3 separate regions of the Homo sapiens genome follow, and regions 1 and 2 are each linked to region 3. The links come from fine-mapping of genetic effects on plasma protein levels. A gene starts in region 3. Each other region holds a variant in brackets. All regions are shown on one strand. Distances are between the middles of the regions.

Region 1 (8,160 bases), 26 kb before region 3:
AACCTGTTCTGTTGATAACAATCTGTCCTTGGAAGTAAAATTTGAGCAATGAGAACTTGCAGAATTCCTTTAAAAACTGCCACATCCTGTGAAAATTATCTTCAAAAATAAATCCATTCTTCATTTTGATATTATTTCAAAATCTGTCGCCTGAGCAATAATGTTTTAATTTACATCTATATACTCCTGCACAAAATAAATACTTGTAAAATTGCTCTGTCAAATTGGAAGTGGATCACTGATACCTTCATTTTCTCAGTTATTCATGTTAGGGGAAAGAAGCTCATGGTTCTGTAAGATATTCTACTTCAATGCAAAAATTGGGAGAATTATTTCAATTAATTAACAAATCCATGGTGAGCTGAGAGTTGAAGGCTGTGCCCTATGCTGGCAGTCTCAAATAAAGCAGCTAAGAGAGAGGAGAGAAACCTTAGGCTCCAGCAGAAGCCTTCCTGTCTCTGATATACCAGCTCAGGATAACTCTGTTAAGGAGTCATTTTGCTGAACAAATCTGCAGAGCCATCACAAAGAGAGTAAGAAAAAAAACATACACCTATTTTAAAAATTGTTTGTGGCCTAAGAACCTCAAGCAATTTCAATTTCCAAGGGAAGGAATTCAGGGCACTATACTCCATAAATTCTTAAATATTTTATTTGCTGCTAGCAGTCAGGTAGAAAAAATAGCCCAGGACACTGTCTTCCAGGAATATGTGAGTTTTCTTTACGAAAATGAGGCCCACCTGGCAGTAGAATGAGCTTCCCATAATTCCAGTGACCTGACGGTAAGGGATTGGCTTTCCTTAGAAACTGGGGCCACTCCCTGGTGCGTGGGAGATCTGGTGCATGGGAGAACTCAGAGCATCTTTGTGTATGCTTTCTGAATGTGTATTCTAAAAGTTTAACAGGTGATGAAATAGGTACCCAGAAAGGGGCATGTCAATTCATGTCTAGCTTATGTGGAGACTTCCAGCTTCTACCTGAACAACCTGAAACTGGTTCTGAGTGAATTCTTTCTTTCTCTTTCCCTCTCCCCTTCCTCTCTCCATCCCTCTCTCTGTGCTTCTCTTACCTTCCTTTTTTTTTTGTTTTGTTTTTTTGAGACGGAGTCTCACTTTGTCGCCCAGGATGAAGTGCAGTGGCTCTATCTTGGCTCGCTGCAACCTCTGCCTCCCGGGTTCAAGCGATTCTCCTGCCTCTGCCTACCCAGTAGCTAGAACTATAGGCGCCCGCCACGACCAGCTACTTTTTGTATTTTAGTAGAGACGGAGTTTCGCCATGTTGGCCAGGCTGATCTCAAACTCCTGACCTAAAGTGATCCACCTGCCTCAGCCTCCCAAAGTGCTGGGATTACAGGCGTGAGCCACCATGCCTGGCCTCTTTTTTTTTTTTCTCTTGGAAGAAATACACAAATAAGCTAAGTCGAGGTGTGTGGAATAACTTTGTGTCCTGCAGTGCATTTTTAAATCTTAGGAATGAGACAGGTGACATGACTATAGATTTGCAATTAGCCGTGCTAGTATTCAAAAGCCATCAGTACTGCTATAGACGGTAAATAGATAATAAACGAATATTATGAAAAACTTTATATAGATAAATATGACAACTTAGATAAAATGGACAAATTCCTTGACAGCTGCACACAAACTATCTAGGTTCATTTAAGGAGAAATAGCCTCAATAGCCCTATATCTATTAAAGAAATGGAATTTTCAAGGGGGGAGGGGCCAAGATGGCTAAATAGGAACAGCTCTGGTCTGCAGCTCCCAGCGAGACCAACTCAGAAGGCTGGTGATTTCTGTATCTCCAACTGAGGTAACCAGTTCATCTCACTGGAAATGGTTAGGCAGTGGGTCCAACCCGTGGAGAGCGAGCAGAAGCAAGATGGGGTGATGCTCCACCCAGGAAGTGCAAGGGGCCAGGGACCTCCCTTCCCCCAGCCAATGGAAGCTGTGAGGAACTGTGTTACCCAGCTGGGTTACTACGCTTTTCCCACGGTTTTTGCAATCTGCACATCAGGAGATTCCCTCGTGTGCCTACACCACTGGGGCCCTGGGTTTCAAGCACAAAACTGGGCAGCTGTTTGGGCAGACACGGAGCTAGCCGCAGGAGTTTTTTTGTACCCCAGTGGCTCCTGGAACCCCAGTGAGACAGAACCATTCACTCCCCTGGAAAGGGGGCTGAAGCCAGGGAGCCAAGTGGTCTCGCTCAGCAGGTCCCACTCCCACAGAGCCCAGCAAGCTAAGAACCACTGGCTGGAAATTCTCGCTGCCAGCACAGCAGTCTGAAGTAGACCTGGGACAATTGAGCTTGGTCATGGGAGGGGCGTCCGCCATTACTGAGACTTCAGTAGGCGATTTTTCAGACAGTGGTTAGGAGGCTGGGAGGTCTGGGCTGGGCGTGGCAAAGCGGCTGTGGCCAGACTGCTTCTCTAGATTCCTCCTCACTGGGCAGGGCATCTGTGAAGGAAAGGTAACAGCACCAGTCAGGGGCTTACAGACAAAACCACCATCTCCCTGGACAGAGCACCTGAGGGAAGGGGCGGCTGTGGGCACAGCTTCAGCGGATTTAATTGTTCCTGCCTGCTGGCTCTGAAGAGAGCAGCTGATCCTGACTAGCGGGATTCTCCCAGCATAGCGCACCAGCTCTGCTAAGGGACAGACTGCCTCCTCAAGTGGGTCCCTGACCCCCGAGTCTCCTGACTGGGAGAAACCTCCCAACAGGGGTTGACAGACACCTCATACAGGAGAGCTCTGGCTGGCATGAGGCTGGTGACCCTCTGGGATGAAGCTTCCAGAGGAAGGAGCAGGCAGCAGTCTTTGCTGTTCTGCAGCCTCCACTGGTGATACCCAGGTGAACAGGGTCTGGAGTGGACCTCCAGCAAACTGCACAAGAGGGACCTATTAGAAGAAAAACTAACAAACAGAAAGCAACAACATCAACATCAACATAAAGGAACCCCACACCAAAACCCCATCCAAAGGTCATCAGCCTCAAGGATCAAAGGTAGATAAATCCATGAAGATGAGGAAAAACCAATGCAAAAACACTGAAAACTCCAAAAACCAGAATGCCTCTTCTCCTCCAAATGATCACAACTCCTCTCTAGCAAGGGCACAAAACTGGAAGGAGAATGAGAATGACGAATTGACAGAAGTAGGCTTCAGAAGGTGGGTAATAACAAACTCCTCTGAGCTAAAGGAGCATGTTCTAACCTAATGCAGGGAAGCTAAGAACCTTGATAAAAGGTTACAGGAACTACTAACTAGAATAACCAGTTTAGAGAGGAACATAAATGACCTGATGGAGCTGAAAAACACAGCACGAGAACTTCGTGAAGCATACACAAGTATCAGTAGCCAAATTGATCAAGTGGAAGAAAGGATATCAGAGATTGAAGATCAACTTACTGAAATAAGGCATGAAGAAAATATTAGAGAAAAAAGAATGAAAAGGAATGAACAAAGCCTCCAAGAAATATGGGACTGTGTGAACAGACCAAACCTATAATTGATTGGTGTACCTGAAAGTGACGGGGAGAATGGAACCAAGTTGGAAAACACACTTTAGGATATTATTCTGGAGAACTTCCCCAACCTAGCAAGACAGGCCAACATTCAACTTCAGGACATACAGAGAACACCACTAAGATAATCCTCAAGAAGAGCAACCCCAAGACACGTAATCTTCAGATTCTCCAAGGTCAAAATGAAGGAAAAAATTTTAAGGGCAGCCAATGAGAAAGGTCAGGTTATCTATAAAGGGAAGCCCCTCAGACTAACAGCAGATCTCTCTTCAGAAACCCTACAAGCTAGAAGAGAGTGGGGGCCAATATTCAACATTCTTAAAAAAAGAACTTTCAACCCAGAATTTCATATCCAGCCAAACTAAACTTCATAAATGGAGAAATAAAATCCTTTCCAGACAAGCAAATGCAGAGGGATTTTGCCACCACCAGGCCTGCCTTCCAACAGCTCCTGAAGGAAGCATTAAATATGGAAAGGAAAAGCTGGTACCAGCCACTGCAAAAACACGCCAAAATATAAAGACCAATGACACTATGAAGAAACTGCATCAACTAATGTGCAAAATAACCAGCTAGCAGCATGATGACAGGATCAAATTCACACATAACAATATTAACCTTAAATGTAAATGGGCTAAATGCCCCAATTAAAAGACACGGGTTGGCAAATTGGATACAGAGTCAAGACCCATTGGTGTGCTGTATTTGGGAGACCCATCTCACGTGCAAAGACACACATGGGCTCAAAATAAAGGGATGGAGGAATATTTACCAAGCAAATGGAAAACAAAAAACAAAACAAAACAAAAACAAACAAACAAAACTGGGGTTGCAATCCTAGTCTCCGATAAAACAGACTTTAAACCAACAAAGATCAAAAAAGACAAAGAAGGGCATTACATAAAGGTAAAGGGATCAATGCAACAAGAAGAGCTAACTATACTAAATATATATGCATCCAATACAGGAGCACCCAGATTCATAAAACAAGTTCTTAGAGACATACAAAGAGACTTAGACTCCCACACAATAATAGTGGGAGACTTTAACACCCCACTGTCAATATTAGACAGATCAATGAGACAGAAAATTAACAAGGATATTCAGGACTTGAACTCAACTCTAGACCGAGTGGACCTAATAGACATCTACAGAACTCTCCACCCCAAATCAACTGAATATACGTTCTTCTTAGCATCACATAGCGCATATTCTAAAATTTAATACATAATTGGAAGAAAAACACTCCTCAGCAAATGCAAAAGAACAGAAAGCATAACAAACAGTCTCTCAGACCACAGTGCAATCAAGTTAGAACTCAGGTTTAAGAAACTCACTCAAAACTGCAAAACTACATGGAAATTGAACAACCTGCTCCTGAATGACTACTGAGTAAATAATGAAATTATGACAGAAATAAAGAAGTTCTTTGAAACCAATGAGAACAAAGAGACAGCATACCAGAATCTCTGGGACAAAGCTAAAGCAGTGTGTAGAGGGAAATTTATAGCACTAAATGCCCACAACAGAAAGCTGGAAAGATCTAAAATCACCACCCTAACATCACAATTAAAAGAACTGGAGAAGCAAGAGCAAACAAATTCAAAAACTAGCAGAAGACAAGAAATAACTAAGATCAGTGCAGAACTGAAATATATAAGAGACATGAAAAACACTTCAAAAAATCAGTGAATCCAGGAGCTGGTTTTTTGAAAAGATTAACAAAATACATGGACCACTAGCTAGACTAATAAAGAAGAGAGAGGGGAATCAAATAGATGTGCAAAAAAATGATAAAAGGAATATCACCACTGATCCCACAGAAATACAAACTACCATCAGAGAATACTACAAACACTTCTACACAAATAAACAAGAAATTCTAGAAGAAATGAATAAGTTGCTTGACACATACACCCTCCCAAGACTAAACCAGGAAGAAGTTGAATCCCTGAATAGACCAATAACAAGTTCCGAAATTGAGGCAGTAGTTAATAACCTACCAACCAAAAAAAGCCCAGGACCAGACAGATTCACAGCTGAATTCTACCAGAGGTATAAAGAGGCTGGTACCATTCTTTCTGAAACTATTCCAAATAATAGATAAAGAGGGACTCATCTCTAACTCATTTTATGCGGCCAGCATCATCCTGATACCAAAACCTGGCAGATACACAACTAAAAAAGAAAATGTCAGGCCAATATCCCTGATGGACACCGATGAGAAAATCCTCAATAAAATGCTGGCAAACCAAATCCAGCAGCACATCAAAAAGCTTATCCACCATGGTCAAGTTGGCTTCATCCCTGGGATGCAAGGCTTGTTCAACATACACAAATCAATAAAGGTAATCCATCACATAAACAGAACCAATGACAAAAACCACATGATTATCTCAATAGATGCAGAGAAGGCCTTCGATAAAATTCAACATCCCTTCATGCTAAAAACTCTCAATAAACTAGGTATTGATGGAAAATATCTCAAAATAATCAGAGCTATTTATGACAAACCCATAGCCAATATCATACCAAATGGGCAAAAGCTGGAAGCATTCCCTTTGAAAACCAGCACAAGACAAGGATGCCCTCTCTCATCACTCCTATTCAACATGGTATTGGAAGTTCTGGCCCAGGCAATCAGGCAAGAGAAAGAAGTAAAGGGTATTCAAATAAGAAGAGAAGAAGTCAGATTGTCTCTGTTTGTAGACGACATGATTGTATATTTAGAAAACCCCATTGTCTCAGCCCCAAAACTCCTTAAGGTGATAAGCAACTTCAGCAAAGTCTCAGGATACAAAATCAATGTGCAAAAATCACAAGCATTCCTATACACCACCAACAGAGAGACAGCCAAATCATGAGTGAACTCCCATTCACAATTGCTACAAAGAGAATAAAATACCAAGGAATACAACTTACAAGGGACATGAAGGACCTCTTCAAGGAAAACTACAAACCACTGCTCAAGGAAATAAGAGAGTATACAAACAAATGGAAAAACATTCCATGCTCATGGATAGGAAGAATCAATATCATGAAAATGGCCATACTGCCCAAAGTAATTTATAGATTCAATGCTATTCCCATGAAACTACCATTGACTTTCTTTGCAGACTTAGAAAAAACTACTTTAAATTTCGTGTGGAACCAAAAAGCAGCCCGTATAGCCAAGACAATCCTAAGCAAAAAGAACAAAGCTGGAGGCATCATGCAACCTGACTTCAAACAAAACTACAAGGCTACAGTAACCAAAATGCATGATACTGGTACCAAAACAGATATGTAGACCAATGGAACAGAACAGAGACCTTAGAAATAATGCCACACATCTATAACCATCTGATCTTTGACAGACCTGACAAAAACAAACAATGGGCAAAGGATTCCCTATTTAATAAATGGTGCTGGGAAAACTGGCTAGCCATATGCAGAAAACAGAAACTGGACCCCTTCCTTACACCTTATACAAAAATTAACTCGAGATAGATTAAAGACTTAAATGTAAAAATCTAAAACCATAAAAACCCTAGAAGAAAACCTAGGCAATGCCATTCAGGACATAGGCATGGGCAAAGACTTCATGACTAAAACACCAAAAGCAATGGCAACAAAAGCCAAAATTGACAAATGGGATCTAATCAAACTAAAGAGCTTCTGCACAACAAAAGAAACTATCACCAGAGTGAACAGGCAACCTACAGAATGGGAGAAAAGTTTTGCAAGCTACCCATCTGACAAAGGTCTAATATCCAGAATCTACAAGGAGCTTAAACAAATTTACAAGAAAAAAACAATCAAAAAGTGGGCGAAGGTTATGAACAGACACTTCTCAAAAGAAGACATTTATGGGGCCAACAAACATATTTTAAAAAGCTCATCATCACTGGTCATTAGAGACATGCAAACCAAAACCACAATGAGATACCATCTCACACCAGTTAGAATGGTGATTATTAAGAAGTCAGGAAACAACAGATAGAGAAACAGGAGCGCTTTTACACT[G/A]TTGGTGGGGGTGTAAATTAGTTCAACCATTGTGGAAGAAGACAGTGTGGTGATTCCTCAATGATCTAGAACCAGAAATACCATTTGACCCAGCAATCTCATTACTGGGTATATACCCAAAGGATTATAAATCATTCTACTATAAAGACACCTGCACACATATGTTTATTGCAGCACTATTTACAATAGCAAAGATTTGGAACCCACCCAAATGCCCATCAATGATAGACTGGAGAAAGAAAATGTGGGACATATAAACAGTGGGATACTATGCAGCCATAAAAAAGGATGAGTTCACGTCCTTTACAGGGAAATGGATGAAGCTGGAAACCATCATTCTCAGCAAACTAACACAGGAACAGAAAACCAAACACCACATGTTGTCATTCATAAGTGGGAGTTGAACAATGAGAACACATGGACACAGGGAGGGTAATATCACACACCAGGCTCTGTCAGGGGGTAGGGGTAAGGGGAAGAAGAGCATTAGAACAAATACCTAATGTATGCGGGACTTAAAACCTAGATAATGGGTTGATAGGTGCAGCAAACCACCATGGCACTTGTATACCTATGTAACAACCTGCACTTTCTGCACATGTATCCCAGAACTTAAAGTAAAATAAAAATTA
Region 2 (8,172 bases), 100 kb before region 3:
ACAGCATCCCAAGGCAGAAGAATTTTTCTTAGTACAGAACAAAATGGAGTTTCCCATGTCTACTTCTTTCTACACAGACACAGCAACAATCTGATTTCTCTATCTTTTCCCCACATTTCCCCCTTTTCTATTCCACAAAACCGCCATCGTCATCATGGCCCGTTCTCAACGAGCTGTTGGGTATAGCTCACAGACGGGGTGGCGGCTGGGCAGAGGGGCTCCTCACTTCCCAGAAGGGGCAGACGGGCAGAGGCACCCCCCACCTCCCGGACGGGGCGGTGGCAGGGCAGAGTCGCCCCCCATCTCCCTCCCAGATGGGGTGGCTGCCGGGCAGAGGCGCTCCTCACTTCCCAGACGGGGCGGCTGCCGGGCGGAGGGGCTCCTCACTTCTCAGACGGGGCGGCTGGGCAGAGACGCTCCTCACCTCCCAGACGGGGTCGCGGCCGGGCAGAGGTGCTCCTCACATCCCAGACGTGGCGGCGGGGCAGAGGCGCTCCCCACATCTCAGACGATGGGCAGCCGGGCAGAGATGCTCCTCACTTCCTAGATGGGATGGAGGCCAGGAAGAGGCTCTCCTCACTTCCCAGACTGGGCAGCCGGGCAGAGGGGCTCCTCACATCCCAGACGATGGGAGGCCAGGCAGAGACGCTCCTCACTTCCCAGACGGGGTGGCAGCCGGGCAGAGGCTGCAATCTCGGCACTTTGGGAGGCCAAGTCAGGCGGCTGGGAGGTGGAGGTTGTAGCTAGCCGAGACCACGCCACTGCACTCCAGCCTGGGCAACATTGAGCACTGAGTGAACGAGACTCCGTCTGCAATCCCGGCACCTTGGGAGGCCGAGGCTGGCAGATCACTCGCGGTTAGGAGCTGGAGACCAGCACGGCCAACACGGCGAAACCCCGTCTCCACCAAAAAAATACGAAAACCAGTCAGGCGTGGCGGCGTGCGCCTGCAATCGCAGGCACTCGGCAGGCTGAGGCAGGAGAATCAGGCAGGTAGGTTGCAGTAAGCCGAGATGGCAGCAGCACAGTGCAGCTTCGGCTGGGCATCAGAGGGAGACCGTGGAAAGAGAGGGAGAGAGAGACTGTGGGGAGAGGGGGAGGGGAGGGGGAGGGGGAGAGGGAGAGGGAGAGCTATTCTTTTATTCTTTAAAAATTCTTCCTTTTTACTCTCCTGCTTTTGCATTGCTGTCACATACATGTAAAATGTAGCACAGGAAATGTATGTGTATTCACAATCAACTGGAAACTAATAACTTTTTATTTCTGCTGTCAATCCAACAATGGAGGTAAAGCACAGAGTGGTAGTTCCAAACTTGAACTTCACAGATGAACAAAATTTCCCCACAATGTTGGTTACTGGCCAGGCGAGGTGGCTCAAGCCTGTAATCCCAACTACTTGGGAAGCTAAGGCAGGAGGATTGCTTGAGCTTGAGAGTTGCAGGCTGCAGTGAGCTAAGATCGTGCAGCTACACTCCAACCTAGGTGATAGAGCAAGACCCTGTCTCTAATGACATCAGAAAAGTTGGTTACTAGTATAGGGTGGCCAACTTTTCATTTTGCCAAATTGTGAAATTCATAAAACAAATAGCCACAAAACTATCATCTATCCTAATTTTAATTTTAAAAAAGAAAGGACATTTAAAAACAACTTATTTTGGCAAATGAAAACTTATTACTATTGGGTTTTCACCATTAAAGCTGATGAGCTTGGTCTTTCCTCCTTGCTTTTGATAGGGCCAAAAGAGAGACATTGGCTACTTTAACAACTTTAAGGTGGACTCCAGGAATATCACCAACAGCATGACCTTTTCTGCCAAATCCAGCAACCAGAACTGTTGCAGGAAGTCAGGGACCCTGAACGGAGGGACCAGCTGGAGCCGAGGCAGAAGAACATAAATTGTGATGATTTCATGGACATTTGTCAGTTTCCAAAATTAATACTTTTATAATTTCTTACACCTGTCTTTACTGCAATCTCTGAACATAAATTGTGAAGAATTCATGGACATTTATCGCTTCCCCAATCAATACTCTTATAATTTCTTATGCCTCTCTTTAATCTCTTAATCCTGTCATCTTCGTAAGCTGAGGATGTGTGTCACCTCAGGACCCTGTGATGGTTGCGTTAACTGTACAAATTGTAAAACATCTGTGTTTGAACAATATGAAATCAGCGCACCCTGAAAAAGAACAGAATAACAGCAATTTTCAGGGAACAAGGAAAGATAACTGTAAGGTCTGACTGCCTGTGGGGTCGGGCAGAATAGTGTCATATTTTTCTTCTTGCAGAGAGCCTATAGATGGACATGTGAGTAGGAGAAATATTGCTGAATTCTTTTCCCCACAAGGAATATTAATAATTGATAGCCCTGGGGAAGGAATGCATTCCTGGGGGTAGGTCTATAGATGGCCGCTCTGGGAGTCTCAGTCTTATGTGGTTGAGATAAGGACTGAAATACACCCTGGTCTCCTGCAGTACCCTCAGGCTTACTAGGATTGGGAAATTCCAGCCTGGTAAATTCTAGTCAGACCAGTTGTCTGCTCTCGAACCCTGTTTCCTGTTAAGATGTTTATCAAGACAATGTGTGCACAGCGGGACATAGGCCCTCATCAGTAATTCTAATTTTGCCTTGCCTTGTGATCTTTTATCGCCCTTTGAAGCATGTGATCTTTGTGACTTACTCCCTGTTTGTACACCCCCTCCCCTTTTAGAATCCCTAATAAAAACTTGCTGGTTTTGTGGCTCAGGTGGGCATCATGGAACCTGCCAATATGTGATGTCACCCCTGGCGGCCCAGCAGTAAAATTTTTCTCTTTGTACTCTTTCTCTTCATTTCTCAGACCGGTCAACACTTAGGGAAAATAGAAAAGAACCTACATTGAAATATTGGGTGCTGGTTCCCCTGATACAGAACTTCATCATTTTTTTCAATAAAATTCAAGCAATCATCATCAGGTACAAAGGCTGTGATTTTCTTGCTGTTCTCTCATCTGCCTCACAGCCTCCAACCTGTAACAAGAGGATCAGCTGTGCCAGTGGAGACCACAGCATCTAGCTTATGCTGGATGATCAGCTTGGCCCTGGCACACTTCTCAGTGGCAGAGCTGGGCTATTTGGCTCCAATCCCTACTTTTTCCAGCCCAATTCCCTTTGCATGAGAAGCACCTCCAAAAGGGCTGGTCTTCAGGACTGTGCCCGAATGGGCTTTCTTGTACCATTTACCATGCCACTTCTGATCCTGTCGGTGACAATGGAGCTTCCTGGAGGTAGACAGTCCATGACACTTGCCCATATTGCCAGCTCCACAGGTCTGAGCAAAAGAACAGAGACAAAAATTTAAAATAAAAGAAATGACTCTAGGCCTGGTACGGTGGCTCTTGCCTGTAATCCCAGCACTTTGGGAGTCTGAGGCGGGAGGATCACCTGTGGTCAGGAGTTTGAGACCAGCCTGGCCAATATAGCGAAAGCCCATCTCTGCTAAAAATACAAAAAAATTAGCTGGGCGAGGTGGCAGGCGCCTATAGTCCCAGCTACTCGGGAGGCTGAGGCAGGAGAATGGCGTGAACCTTGCGGGGCGGAGCCTGCAGTGAGCCGAGATCGCGCCACTGCATTCCAACCTGGGCGACAGCGAGACTCTGTCTCAAAAAAAAAAAAAAAAACACAAAAATTAGCCGGGCATGGTGGCCCATGACTGTAATCTTCTCAGCTACTCAGGAGGCTGAGGCAGGAGAATTGCTTGAATGTGGGAGGTGGAGGTTGCAGTGAGCCGAAATCGCACCACTGCACTCCAGCCTGGGCAACAGAGCAAGACTCCATCTCAAAAAAAAAAATTAATTAAAAAAAAATAAATGACTCTAGTTTAAAGATCATTTGGCAAATTTATTTATTTACTTATTTAGTATACATATGATACACATATATGTATTTTACATAAGATATAAAATATGTGTACACATAAACATATATGCATATATAATTTCTGCATATGCATATCTATGTTTGCATGTCTTCTCATTTCACTAAACATCATTGAAAACTTCCACCTGCAACTAAACTGGAGCCCACTGATGACAGAGGATGGCAGGGCAGAAAGAAAGGAGATTCTGTGTGGAGGCTATGGAGAGGCCCTGGGTCTTGGGCAGTATAGAAAATGGCTTTTGTCCAAGTGTTCTTATTGCTCAATTCCCACCTATGAGTGAGAACATGCGGTGTTTGATTTTCTGTCCTTGCGAAAGTTTGTTTAGACTGATGGTTTCCAGCTTCATCTATGTCCCTACAAAGGACATGAACTCATCCTTTTTTATGGCTGCATAGTATTCTATAGTGTATATGTGCCACATTTTCTTACTCCAGTCTATCATTGATGGACATTTGGGTTGGTTCCAAGTCTTTGCTATTGTGAATATTTCCGCAATAAACTTACGTGTGCACGGGTGGGGAACATCACACACCGGGACCTGTCGTGGGTGGGGAAGGGGGGAGGGATAACATTAGGAAAAACACCTAATGTAAATGACGAGTTAATGGGTGCAGCACACCAACATGGCACATGTATACATATGTAACAAACCTGCACCTTGTGCACATGTAGCCTAGAACTTGAAGTATATATATATGAATTAAAGAAAAAAAAGGCTTTTTAGACCCAGCACTGACGAGATTCCCTAGGTCGATGGTGGTGGAATTAGGGGTCTCTGTCCTCAGACATTTGGATCTGGATATGTCAGCATGAAAGTCCTTAAGTTGCAGGCATTTTTTAAAAAATATTTTTTATTTCCAAGCTGAATACCATTAATTGGAATGTTACAGGCTTTTTAAGCTCCGTGTTCTGTCTGCATGGCTAATATGCCCGTAGAAACCTTTCAAAACAGCGTGGGTTGAAGACTAATTTTGTAACACAAAACTCACTTACTTAGATATCACATTTTGCTGGACGTGATTGGACCTGAAAGAAAATATTTTTAATGCTCACGACAATAACCTTTTTATGAGTCAGCACTAAACGTGTGCACATGCATACATAAGTTGTCTACATCAGCAAAAAAAGCTTATCGTCGTATTTCTCTGACCAAAATCAACGGAACCCCCGAAATCACAGAGAGCATCCATTTTGGATTCCCCGAAGACCCTTCGTTCCTGCATCCTCTTCTGCTCTCCCTTTCTCAGCCTCTTCTGCTGGAAGCTGAGTCCTGCTCCAGATCTAGGCAAGTGCTAGCGCGGAAAAAAGACCTGCCTCGCTCAGGGCTGTGAGCCGCGCCCTGAAGCACGGAAAGCTAATTGTGTCACTGGTTTCAAATCAACTTCAAATTTTTTGGAGACGTAAGAGTGCTGAGCATTTTTTCTTCAGTGAAGTGACTTGGCAGCCCAGGTCGCCAACGCCCGTTTCTGTAGCGCGATCGGTTAGCGCCTTCGGCTGTTAAACGAAAGGTTGGTGGTTCGTTCCCACCCCGGGACAGAAGTCCCACTTTTGTGAACCTTGAGTTTTTGAAACTTTCACTGAAAAAAACCGCGTGCGATGCTATCCGCCGGGAGCGCTGGAGCCTTGGCTCTCAAAACCAGCCGCGGTGCTAACCGCCGGGATCCCTGGCAGCTGACCTCCGCGTTGTGTGGTTCCCAATGTCCTCTTCTGCCTTAGTGCTGTACGGGTAATTTTGAGGTATTTGGTTTTTCCGACTAGGGTTGTAGTGATAACTCTTAGCTGCTTAACCACTGCAATTACGTTATGGAAACTGACACTTTAAGAAAATTTACTGACCAAAGGAAGTAAGTACTAATAATACCAAAACAAATTGTTTGTCTTTCCACCAAACCTGTACCTGCCTTGCCTTTCTATTTCCTAACTCAGAAAACGGGCACTATGTGTGGAACCTGGTCCTTAGTCATGCCATGTACTGCCGGCTGCCAATTCTTGGAGAGTCGGCCTCCTAAATACCTTGTTGATTAAGCACCTTCCTCTCCAGCCTCACCGCCAGTTACTTCCTCATTGCTCCCTTTGGGTTATTGCATCCTGCCTTGCATGCCCTATCTGGTTTCCGGTCTTCAGCTCTCCTGTCCCGTCCATCCATCAAGTAGTTGCCAGAGAATCCTTCTAAAATACTATACGGTATAAACCTGGTCTGCTTAAACTCTCTCAATGTATTGCAGGGTCTGATACGATCTTCTTAGTTTGGAAGGTAATGCCCTTCATGATCTGGCCCTGAAACTCTTTCCTCTCCCTCACCGACACAGAACCAAACTGCTTTCTTGAACTCACACTCTGGCTTTTGAATCTTTGCCTATGAACCTTGGGCTTTTCTTCTCTTCTTTGCCTGGCGAACTCCTACTCATCCTTCATGACCACACCCCCCAAATCAAGCCTCTTTTCTGCAGCCCTTTCTTCATTCTCTTCCTATTTAACTGTTTTTCTCACTAGAAATAAAGCTTCTCCAGGGAATGACCCTGTGTTGTTCATCTGGTATCTTCAGCACCTGAACTCAAGCTTGCACATTGTAGGTAGTAAATAAATGTGAGTTGAATGTCCAAGGTTTCCAAATGCACCTGTGTCGTGTCGGAATCTTATGTAATATTTATGTATGTAATCTAGCTTGAATCGTCTTGGTATATAGCTCATAATTCATACAATCAGGCTGACCCTCTACCTCTGCCCAGGCCTCTACCTCCTGTGTAGCTGTGCCTTCTCCTATCTGCCCCAATGCTCTAAAACGATCTCTAATGCTTATTCACCCTCCTATCCCATACTTCCCATAAGAATCCCCCTTAGCCCAATTTTCTCAGCAAGATTTGGAAAGCAAGCTGGCTAATTCATATGAGTTGTGGTGAGATGGCTGCTGGGAGGAGGGGGTGTTTCTTACCAATCCAAACCAATCTCTGTTACAATGTTGGACAAAGGGAAGAAGAAAGAATTTTATCATTCATATTTTATTACCATGGTTTTGCCATCTTCTATCTAAGAGTAGCATGCAAGATCTTGTAAAATGCTTTATTGGAACCAAGAAATGTTGCACTGAAAGCTTACAAAACAGAGACAGCTAAAGCTTT[C/T]TTTCATAAGCAACAATTGTCTTCTCCATCCCCACCTCATTGGAACTGACATGAAGAAGGATTTGAAAGTTTCACAGCGTAACTCAGTGAAGCTCAGTAGTACATTTAGTATTGGTTATACAACATTTGTTTAATAAATGCAATGAACAAAGCTATACAGGAACTAGACATTGAAGCAGAAAAGGTGGTTTTACAGTCCCTGCATTAACCTCTAATTCTTACTACCCCGGCCAAGAAAGCATTTTCACCTCCTGCGCTTTCCTTCCTGTGTGCTTCTGGTTGGTTCTTTCTTCTCAGGCTTTCTCATTCTGATGCTGAGATAGTTCTGTTCACTTAGCTTAACTTGAGACAGTGACACAGGGTTTGTTCTGTACTTTCTTTTCCACCCCACCCCCACCCCAATCCTCAGTCCCCTTCCTAGGACCATTTTCTACTCCTAGCATTAGAGGACTCATCGTTATATACTTGGAAATGGTCCAGTTCTGATAGAGTCCCCTGGAAGACTCAATTCTACGTCACCCTCATGATTTCCTGTTAATTCCACTACGGCTAATGTTCTAGGAAGACACCCTTATCTCTGGGCTCAGATGGGAACACCTCCCTTAGACTATCCTGGACTACCCTGCTATTTCTCAGCCATGCTTTCATTGGTCCCACTGAATTCTCTAGATCCCCAGCAGTTCCCACACTCTGTAGGGTCCTGCCTCAACCATTAATTCTACTTATCCATTTGTTTAGGAATAATTATTTTCTTTTTTTCCCTCTAAACTGGGTAATTTATAATACGAGCAATTTTTGTATGTTTAAAGGATTACCATCCCTAGCCTGTATTGTTGCTTTGCTGTGAGGGAATGGTTGGGACAGAAAAAGTGTTTGTGTAGCTCTGAAACTTCAATTTCTAGGAATGCAGCTACTCACTGGGGCTTCCCTGCTTGAAGATCATGGGCTTTTCCCTTCCACTGGAGACCAAGGAAAAATCGAGAGTTGGATAAAGGATCTGGCTCTGAGTTCTATGTTTCCTGCTGCTTGTAGAGAGGCCTGAGGATGATGGGGTTGCAAATCCAGAGAAATGTTCAGAGATGCTGCTGCCACTGCTCTTATTACCCCCATGGGATGGGGGTCATGTGTCTTGA
Region 3 (8,180 bases):
TATTAAACACCAAACTCTATATAAATAGGATGTTGTACTACCAGCTATGCACTTGGAAGTGGGGATGATGATGAACAAGACAGGAACTCAGGGAATAGATCGCTCACTGGGGACTGGAGTGTTCAGGTGCATCTCATGAAGAAGATAATACATGGGTGGGGCCTTGAAAAACATGACAGATCTACAGAACAGGAGAAGAGAGGAAAGGACGTTCCAGAGTGGGATGATGTAAGCAAGGGCATAAAGGGGAAAACTGGCATGCAGATGTCAGGGAAAAAGAAGGCAAATCCTTTGAAACAGAGTTCAGCGGAAGGAAATAATAATGGAGAAGTAAATAGACTACAGAGGCTCTTAAATGTGCTATAGAGGCTCTTTAAATGTCCATAAGAAAATTGATCGAATTCTGTAGGTAAATTTTGAGTAAAGGAGGAACTCGTGAAAAGTGATGTTTAGGATGATTATTCTGGCACTCTGGTATAAGGTGAATGGGGCGACTAGAAGAGAGGTTGAGGGAGGTGGATTTGAAGGCTGTTGTTCTCATCCAGCCTTCTGAGACAAGGGCCTTGGCTAGGGACAGGAGGAATAGAGAGTAATGATCTGAGAGGTGTTAACAGGTCTGGGTGATCAGATATGGAGTAGCATTGCACCTCCCAAACACAAAGCTCTCTGTACCCAGCCCAGTAGCCCAAGGTAGAAAAACTTGGTTCAGTTACAACTTAGAAGAGACTAGGGAAGGGATAAAATGACCTGCTAGAATCATAGGAGGAAGTTTAAGGAGGGTGTGTTGGGATAGGCCTCACCCTAGTCCTGTCTTCTTAAAAGTTTTCTTCCCTCTTGGTATCAACCTTCTCCCTTCCCACTGGACAAGAGGAGATGTGGAGAAATACGGAGAGTTACAGCACAGCCTTCCTGCCAGAGTTCCTTCAGACAGGCACTGTTAGTTTTCATTAACTATGTGTGAATTTCTCATAAAGCTAAAGACATTCAATGTAAAGAAATACTCTGCTCTCTATTCTGAAATTGTCCTTTGCACTCCTTTGGTATCGAAATGCCTTCCTTTTGCTGAAAAGTTTACATTAAAGAATATAATTTTATGCCGGGCACGGTGGCTCACGCCTGTAATCCCAACACTTTGGGAGGCTGAGGCGGGCGGATCACCTGAGGTCTGGAGTTCGAGACTAGCCTGACCAACATGGAGAAACCCTGTTTCTACTAAAAATACAAAACTAGCTAGGCATGGTGGCGCATGCCTGTAATCCCAGCTACTCGGGAGGCTGAGGCAGGAGAATTGCTTGAATCCAGGAGGCAGAGGTTGTGGTGAGCTGAGATTGCACCATTGCACTCCAGCCTGGGCAAGAAGAGTGAAACTCCGTCTAAAAAAAAAAAAAAAAGAATAGCAATAGCAATTTTAAAAAATATATTATTATCAGCCCTATCCTGGGTTACAGAAAATAAAATAAGAATAATTTTAAATGTTCTTATTTAGGAAAAGAAAAATTTGTTTGATAAAATTACAAAGGTAAGAAACACTGAATATTGATGACAAGAGGGAATGGGAGCCACGTGAATTGCTGGTGGGTGTATAAGCTTCTGCAGCCACTTTTGAGAGTAATATCACGGTATTCAATCTCTTCCTTTGTTTATGCCACAAATACTTACACAGCACGTGCTATGTGCTGTCACTGCTGTAGGTGATACATCAGCAAAAAAGAAAAAATTCCTGCCTCAATGGAGCTTACATTCTAATGGGGGAACCTACCACAAACAAACAAATACAATTCCGGGTGGTGACAAGTACATTGAAGAGAAATAAAGCAAAATATGGAGCCAGCAAATGACAGTGAGGAGATACTATTTTAGATAGCACGGTTAGCGACCATCTCTCTGAGGAAGTAATATTTGAGTGAAGTGAGGAAGTGAAACTTACAAAAATCTGGGAGGAGAATAAGAATCTTTCAGGCAGAAAGAACAGCAAGTGAGGCCCTGGAGCAAGACTAAGCATGGAATGTTCCAGCAACTGTTCTAAACACAATGTGGCTAGATCAGAGTGAGTGAGGGGGAGAGTTGTAGGAAATGAGGCCAAGGGTCAGAGAAAGGCCCGATTTGTAGGGCCCTGTAGACCATGGGAAGGTGTTTGGAACTTATTCTGAGGGTACCTATGGGGAATTTTGAGAGAAAGTAACACAATATGGTTAACATTTTAAAAGTATCTCTCTAGCGACTCAGTGAATAAATTACTGTACAAAAAGATCAATGTAGCAGGTAGAGTCATCAGGACTTGCTGATGAATTAGATTTGAGTTTTGGAATGAGTGTGCATGTAACTCATGAACATAATTCTGCAGTCTTGCTCTCAGGTGTGTATCCCATAAAGGCGCTTCAGGGCTCTGTAGGGAAGCATCATGTCCTTACCAGTACTAACTTACATGAAACTTCCTATGTGCCAACCCCTGTTCTAAGCCCTTTACATATGTTAATTCATCCAGCCCTCACAATATGTACCAAGAAGTCCATTGTGGAATTGTCTGTGGTAGCTGAGGGTGGGCAGCAACTAGGATGTTAGGGGAATGGACAAGTGCAGTGTAGCAGAAGCATAGAATATTAGGGCAGTCATGGCTGGGCGCAGTGGCTCATGCCTGTAATCCCAGCACTTTGGGAGGCTGAGGTGGGTGGATCACCTGAGGTCAGGAGTCCAAGACCAGCCTGGCCAACATGGTGAAACCCCATCTCTGCTAAAAACACAAAATTAGCCAGGCGTGGTGATGCACGCCTGTAATCCCAGCTACTCAGGAGGCTGAGGCAGGAGAACTGCTTGAACCCAGGAGGTGGAGGTTGCAGTGAGCTGATATCATGCCATTGCATGCCAGACTGGGTAATAAGAGCAAAACTGCGTCTCAAAAAAAAAGAATATTAGGGCAGTCAAAAGCAATAAACATGATGCATGTAGAGCAATCTGAACAAATTTGAAACATCTGGGATTAATTTTTAAAAGTAGAAGTGAATATAATATCTAGAACACAATGCCACTTATGTAAATTAACAACACTAAATATTTCTCAAAGCTAAAAACTGCATGTTATACCTAATGTAAATGACGAGTTAATGGGTGCAGCACACCAACATGGCACATGTATACATATGTAACAAACCTGCACGTTGTGCACATGTACCCTAGAACTTAAAGCACAAAAAAAAATAGCATGTATATGGGAACACACAGTAAACATTTTACAGTGGGTGCTTATGTGGAGGGGAGGAGGACAATAATGTGGGTGAAAGTCAACAAGGTAAGACAATAAGAGGGGGAACTTGCAAAGACCAATAATGACAGCCGGCCATGAGCAGCATCTTGAATCCCTGACAATCAGAGAGATAAGAGAACAGATTTTGGAGACAGACTTCTATTCAAATCCCAGTTTCATCATCTCAGTTTCCTCATATGCAAAATTGGGATATTAATAATTCTTCCTCAAAGGGCCTTACAAGAATTAAGTGCAGTAATATCTGTGAAGCACTTAGCATAGTGCCTGCCACATGCCGAGACACTAAAGTGAGCTGTCATCAGCAACAACAGCATTAGTTCATTACTGTAATTATCACTGAGAACACTTTATCACCAGAATGCTTATCAAATGGTGACATATATTGTCCAGATGTTATGTTGTGATAGGCCTCAAATAATTGCTCAAGTTACAAATGATAATTTCTAAATTTTTCTGCATTGTAAAGGAGTGAAGAATTAGAAATTCTGGGGAAAAGTCCTAGATGGAGTAAAAAGACTCACTTTGGGAAAAACTTAGAGGAGAGCCTAGAATAAATAAATATTTCGTGGGAAATTTTTCAAGTCAAATTCTGAGCACTGTATAATATGAACAGTATGGATGGTTCCAGAGGTTTCTAGGGACGACTATACAGTTCACAAAGTTTTGGTGTACTAAGGTTTCTTCTGAATCGAGTAAAGGGGCTGAGATCTGTGCTCTGGGGGATGAGAAGCCAAAATAGAGCCAGCTTGTGTTGCCTAAGAGGACAGCTGACAACTGCATTGCATTCTTACCATTGAGGTGGTGGCTTGGTGCAGAAGTCAGACCTCTGTGGCAGGCTGTGGATCATGTGGGAAGCCACACACTGGCCCTGAGACGAGGAATTATTAGGATGGAGGGGAAGCACAAGAGTGCTGGTCAGCCCAGGCACTCCTAAAGCAGGCAGGTGATCATCCCTGTTCCCAGTAATTAGTTCTTCTCTGCCTCCCCTACTCTTGGGCACATTGTCAAATATGTCCCTACTTTGTTTGAAATCTACAGGACTCTATCTCTTTTATCAAAACCTGCACTCAAAACATGATCTGAAGTGACCAGCATAATTTAAATGACCAGTCACATTTTCCTAAGAGGCATTTGCATTTTTAAAAGGGGCTAGTCCATTAAGCAAAATATGAGGGGACTCTCAGAGTGGAACTTCAGGCATCAGCAAGAGGGGAAGATACTATCTTCCTGGGAGTTGACAGTACCTGATAATTGATCTCCTTCCCATCAGATTTCCAAGGGATCAAGGTGCCCCGGTTCTAAACAACCACAGGTAAGGACAGGATAGAGTCCAAGGAGACACACTATCAGGCTGGAAAATTCATTAAGTATTTACATGAAAATTCAGGTTCTCCTCATTGCTCAGGTACGGTCACATGGCTCAGAAAGCACAAGAAGTAGAGCCCCGAGGTCAGATCTGAGAGGCTTCTGAGGGGCCGATGCAGTGACTTCTCTGCTGCAGGTCAGGAGTTCTGGAACTGGGGCGTGGCTGGGGAGGGGTTGCAGGGAAGGGTGGGAGGAAGGAAGAAAAGAACAAGTGATTGGAAGTGCCACAGGATGAGCTCATTGGGATGGGTAGGAAAGAAGAGTTTTCTAACTTCTTAAGAATTTAAGAATTTATGAGAACTCAAGATTTCAGGAAGGGAGGAAGAAGAAACACATTGCATTTCTATCCTTGACTGGGGAACTAGATGATAGGGATGTGAAGGGTGGTTGGTGAGTCATGCCTTTTCGTCTACTCATTGTGGCAGGATGTGAGCTCTGGGGGCAGGCAACCGAACACTGACCTCTCTAGGTCTCATGCCAATGTCTGTCATCAGGAGTGAGCAGGAAAAAGGTCCTTAAGGACATGAGGCCGTGTCTTCCTCAGCTGAGCCTTGCAGGGCTGGCTGGAAGGTGGAGAAGGGATGGGATGGGAGTGGGATGTCAATGGGAGCCTGAAGATGGCGGGGTCATCTGCTGGAGCCTGGGGTTCTATGGGGCTCTCTTGTGCTGTGGAGGGCACAAGTTCTGCAGGCCTTCCTTTCAGTAGTCAGGGCTGGCCTGAGCTGTGAGGTGGCTGTAGATGCGGTAGATGAGACAGTGCCTGGCACTTGGGATACCTGATATTCAGCCTGTCTCCCACTGGTTCTGGTCTGCTATCTTCAGGAACTAGGAGTGGGTGGGAGAAGCAGCAATGTCTCCTAGTACTCAGTGGCATCCACTGGCCACATTCTTTCTCTCTGTTCCCCATCTCATGCCAGTGCATCTCCATCCTTCTGCAGCTGCTGCAGTCAGATCCATCATGTGGCCACTGACAGCCCTTCTGCTCCTGGGTGAGTCCACAGTGAGGCAGCAGAAGAGCTTTGGGTGGTGGAGAATAGGGTGGACCAAGGTATGGGGAGAGGAGGGTGGGTATCCAATCCTCAGTTTCCAAGTGGTTCATTATCTTTTTTTGGAGGGGTGAAGAAGAAGGGGCTTTCTCAGAGCTTGGGAAACCAGGGGCAGAAGAAGAAAAACAGGTTTTGGGACCATTCAGCCTTTCTTGTCGTCAAGAGTCTCTCTCCTCTCATCGCCAATATTCTCCTTCTCCTTCCTCTTCCTTCTTTCCTGTTCTGCAGTTCCAAGCAGTGGGCAAGCTGGTGAGTCTTATAAATTTCTCATCCCAATTTTCTACAGCTTCCACTCCAACCCCCTAAGTGACCTTTTCAAGTAGACTCCTCACTTCTTGGCTGCGCTGGGATAGTGTCTCTTCCCACTCTCGTCAACCCCTGGGACTAAATTTGCTTGAAGGCATTTAGAAATGGGTGCTGGCTGATGGACTGGTAGTCTGTAACCCAATGAATGTGATCTCCTCTCCTGCAGGGATGGGTTAGTACATGGGCTGGGGCCTGCGAGCTGGGGTTTCCTAAGATTTCCCAAACTCAGGTCGTTTCTTTGGGCACCTCACCTTGATTCTCTTTGCATGCTGCCCCCTCTCACCCCACTCCCCACCCCAGCTACTCTGGAGAAGCCCATATTGTCTCTACATCCACCTTGGACCACCATCTTCAAAGGGGAGCGGGTAACTTTGAAGTGTGATGGATACCACCCACTGCTCCTGGAGCTCCAGCCCATCAGCACTCTCTGGTATTTGGGCCACCTACTTCTGCCCTCTCACAAGAAGAGCATTGAGGTGCAGACACCAGGGGTGTATCGATGCCAGACACGGGGAGCACCCGTCAGTGACCCCATCCACCTCTCTGTATCCAATGGTGAGTGGACTGAGCACGAGGGGAGGGGGAGCACGTGTCTCCTCTGGCAATACTAGTCCTCTGGTGGGAGGGAACACTGGGCCAATCCCAAGGTGCAGGAAACAAGGGCCACACTGGGGCCTATCTTAAGTCTCTGGAGCAGGTAGGGACCTGCACGGCACTATGCGAGAGATGCAGTAAGGCATGCCTAGCCCCCAAGGTCCCCTTACCCTCCTGCCATAGTGTGAGGCACAGTGTGAACATTTCTGTTTGTTTCTGAGACCAGCTCAGAAGAGCAAAGGCTCCAAGGACCTGGAGTGCTGGACAGAGAACTTTAGGGGGTTGGGGAGGGAGCAGTAAAGGAAATTCACCAAACAGGAAAGGTGAGTTTCCCTGGCAGTCTGAGCATAGATCAAGGATCTACTCTCAGTTGAACAGTGTGATGCTTCTCTGTGCCTCAGTGTCCACATCTGTAAAGAAGGGACAATAATAGTATGTATCTCTTCGGCTGCTCTGAGGATTAAAAGTGAATTATGATTTGCTAAAGAAAAAAAGCAGCAATTGAACTGAGCACTTACTCAAAGTTTTATTGCAGACGTGTATATGTGTACACAGGAGTCAGCTGAGAAACTGATTCTCGAGATGCTTGAAGGGTTTTAAAACAGGATAAGAAAAATAACAATAATTTGTTCAATAAAGTACAGGATTGCTGGGCACGGTGGCTCAAGCCTGTGATCCCAGCACTTTGGGAGGCCAAGGCGGGCAGATCACCTGAGGTCAGGAGTTCAAGACCAGCCTGGCCAACATGGTGAAACACTCTCTACTAAAAAAAAAAAAAAAAAAAAAAATAGCTGGGCATGATAGCGGGTGCCTGTAGTCCCAGCTACTCAGGAGGCTGAGGCATGAGAATTGTTTGAACCTGGGAGGCGGAAGTTGCAGTGAGCTGAGATCGTGCACTCCTAGCCACAATTTGTATTCAGAATTTAAAGCACATCACTCAATGTTCAGATTAGCACTTACACACACTTCATATTCATACTCTGTGGTTTCTTGTTCGGAAATCATTGGTGATAGCAATAATTATACTGAGTACTATAGGAGTAATTACTGCTTACAGATTGGGAGTGCATGTGGATTGTGGCTATTACTTGCAGGATTCTTTCTCAATGTACAACACCTAAAATGGCATCTGCTCTGTGCTAGGGCTATGTAAGCGTGCTATAATGATCACAGGGTAATTATGAGGTGCTGTAGGAGATACCTAAGGCTCTCCTGGGGTGTCAGGGATGTTTTCTGGAGGAGATAAGGTCTAAGCCTAGACATGCAGGACAAGCAGGTGAACTTAAACAGGTGAAAGAGAGTCTTCTTGGCTGAGGAAATAGCAGGTACAAAAGCCTCGGGCTCAGAGCAGGGCCAGTTCTCTCAACAGTTCAGTATGGCTGGAACTTATCCTGTTAGGAGTGGAAGATGAGGAAAGTAGAGAGGAAATGGGGCAGGAATGAATACTGCCATGGTGAGGGAGAGGTAAGCAGGACCCAGTCAGGAGGACTCTGACACCATCCTAAGGAGGTTATAGTTGATTCTCATGGTCAAAACCCTTTGAGGGTGGAGCCAAGTCTCTGGCATCTTTGCTCCCTGGCTAAGTGAAAGACCAGCCATCCCCCTTC

Direction of the effects. Positions count from the first base shown, and alleles are read on the strand shown. Strength reflects both the effect of a copy and how common the allele is. Not every link is listed here.
As copies of T replace C in region 2, the plasma level of the protein whose gene starts at base 4,457 in region 3 goes up (moderate association).

What was found. A credible set is the group of variants that fine-mapping cannot tell apart. PIP is the chance, under the fine-mapping model, that this variant and not a neighbour inherited with it causes the effect. Protein levels are from antibody-based Olink assays in UK Biobank. Linkage for the fine-mapping came from a reference panel and not from the study's own genotypes, which makes the PIPs less certain.
Region 1: its variant is the best candidate, but not a certain one, in a credible set for the plasma level of the FCRLB protein (UK Biobank, PIP 0.52).
Region 2: its variant is the best candidate, but not a certain one, in a credible set for the plasma level of the FCRLB protein (UK Biobank, PIP 0.80).

What each region holds. Positions count from the first base shown.
Region 1 is chr1:161,691,146-161,699,305 of GRCh38, forward strand. No RefSeq gene overlaps it. Among named protein-coding and RNA genes, the nearest start is that of FCRLA, 12 kb to the right of the region's middle. The variant G/A (reference allele first, on the strand shown) is at 7,529.
Region 2 is chr1:161,616,293-161,624,464 of GRCh38, forward strand. FCGR3B (Fc gamma receptor IIIb) reads right to left here. Exons shown (of 5, transcript NM_001244753.2): 5 at 6,904-8,172. It also overlaps the pseudogene RPS23P9. Among named protein-coding and RNA genes, the nearest start is that of TRL-CAA6-1, 8.4 kb to the left of the region's middle. The variant C/T (reference allele first, on the strand shown) is at 7,040.
Region 3 is chr1:161,717,088-161,725,267 of GRCh38, forward strand. It overlaps FCRLB (Fc receptor like B), which reads left to right and starts at 4,457. Exons shown (of 8, transcript NM_001002901.4): 1 at 4,457-4,574; 2 at 4,668-4,763; 3 at 5,566-5,616; 4 at 5,902-5,922; 5 at 6,280-6,534. The coding sequence starts at 5,586. RefSeq lists a silencer at 1,810-1,859 and enhancers at 5,239-5,338, 5,419-5,518.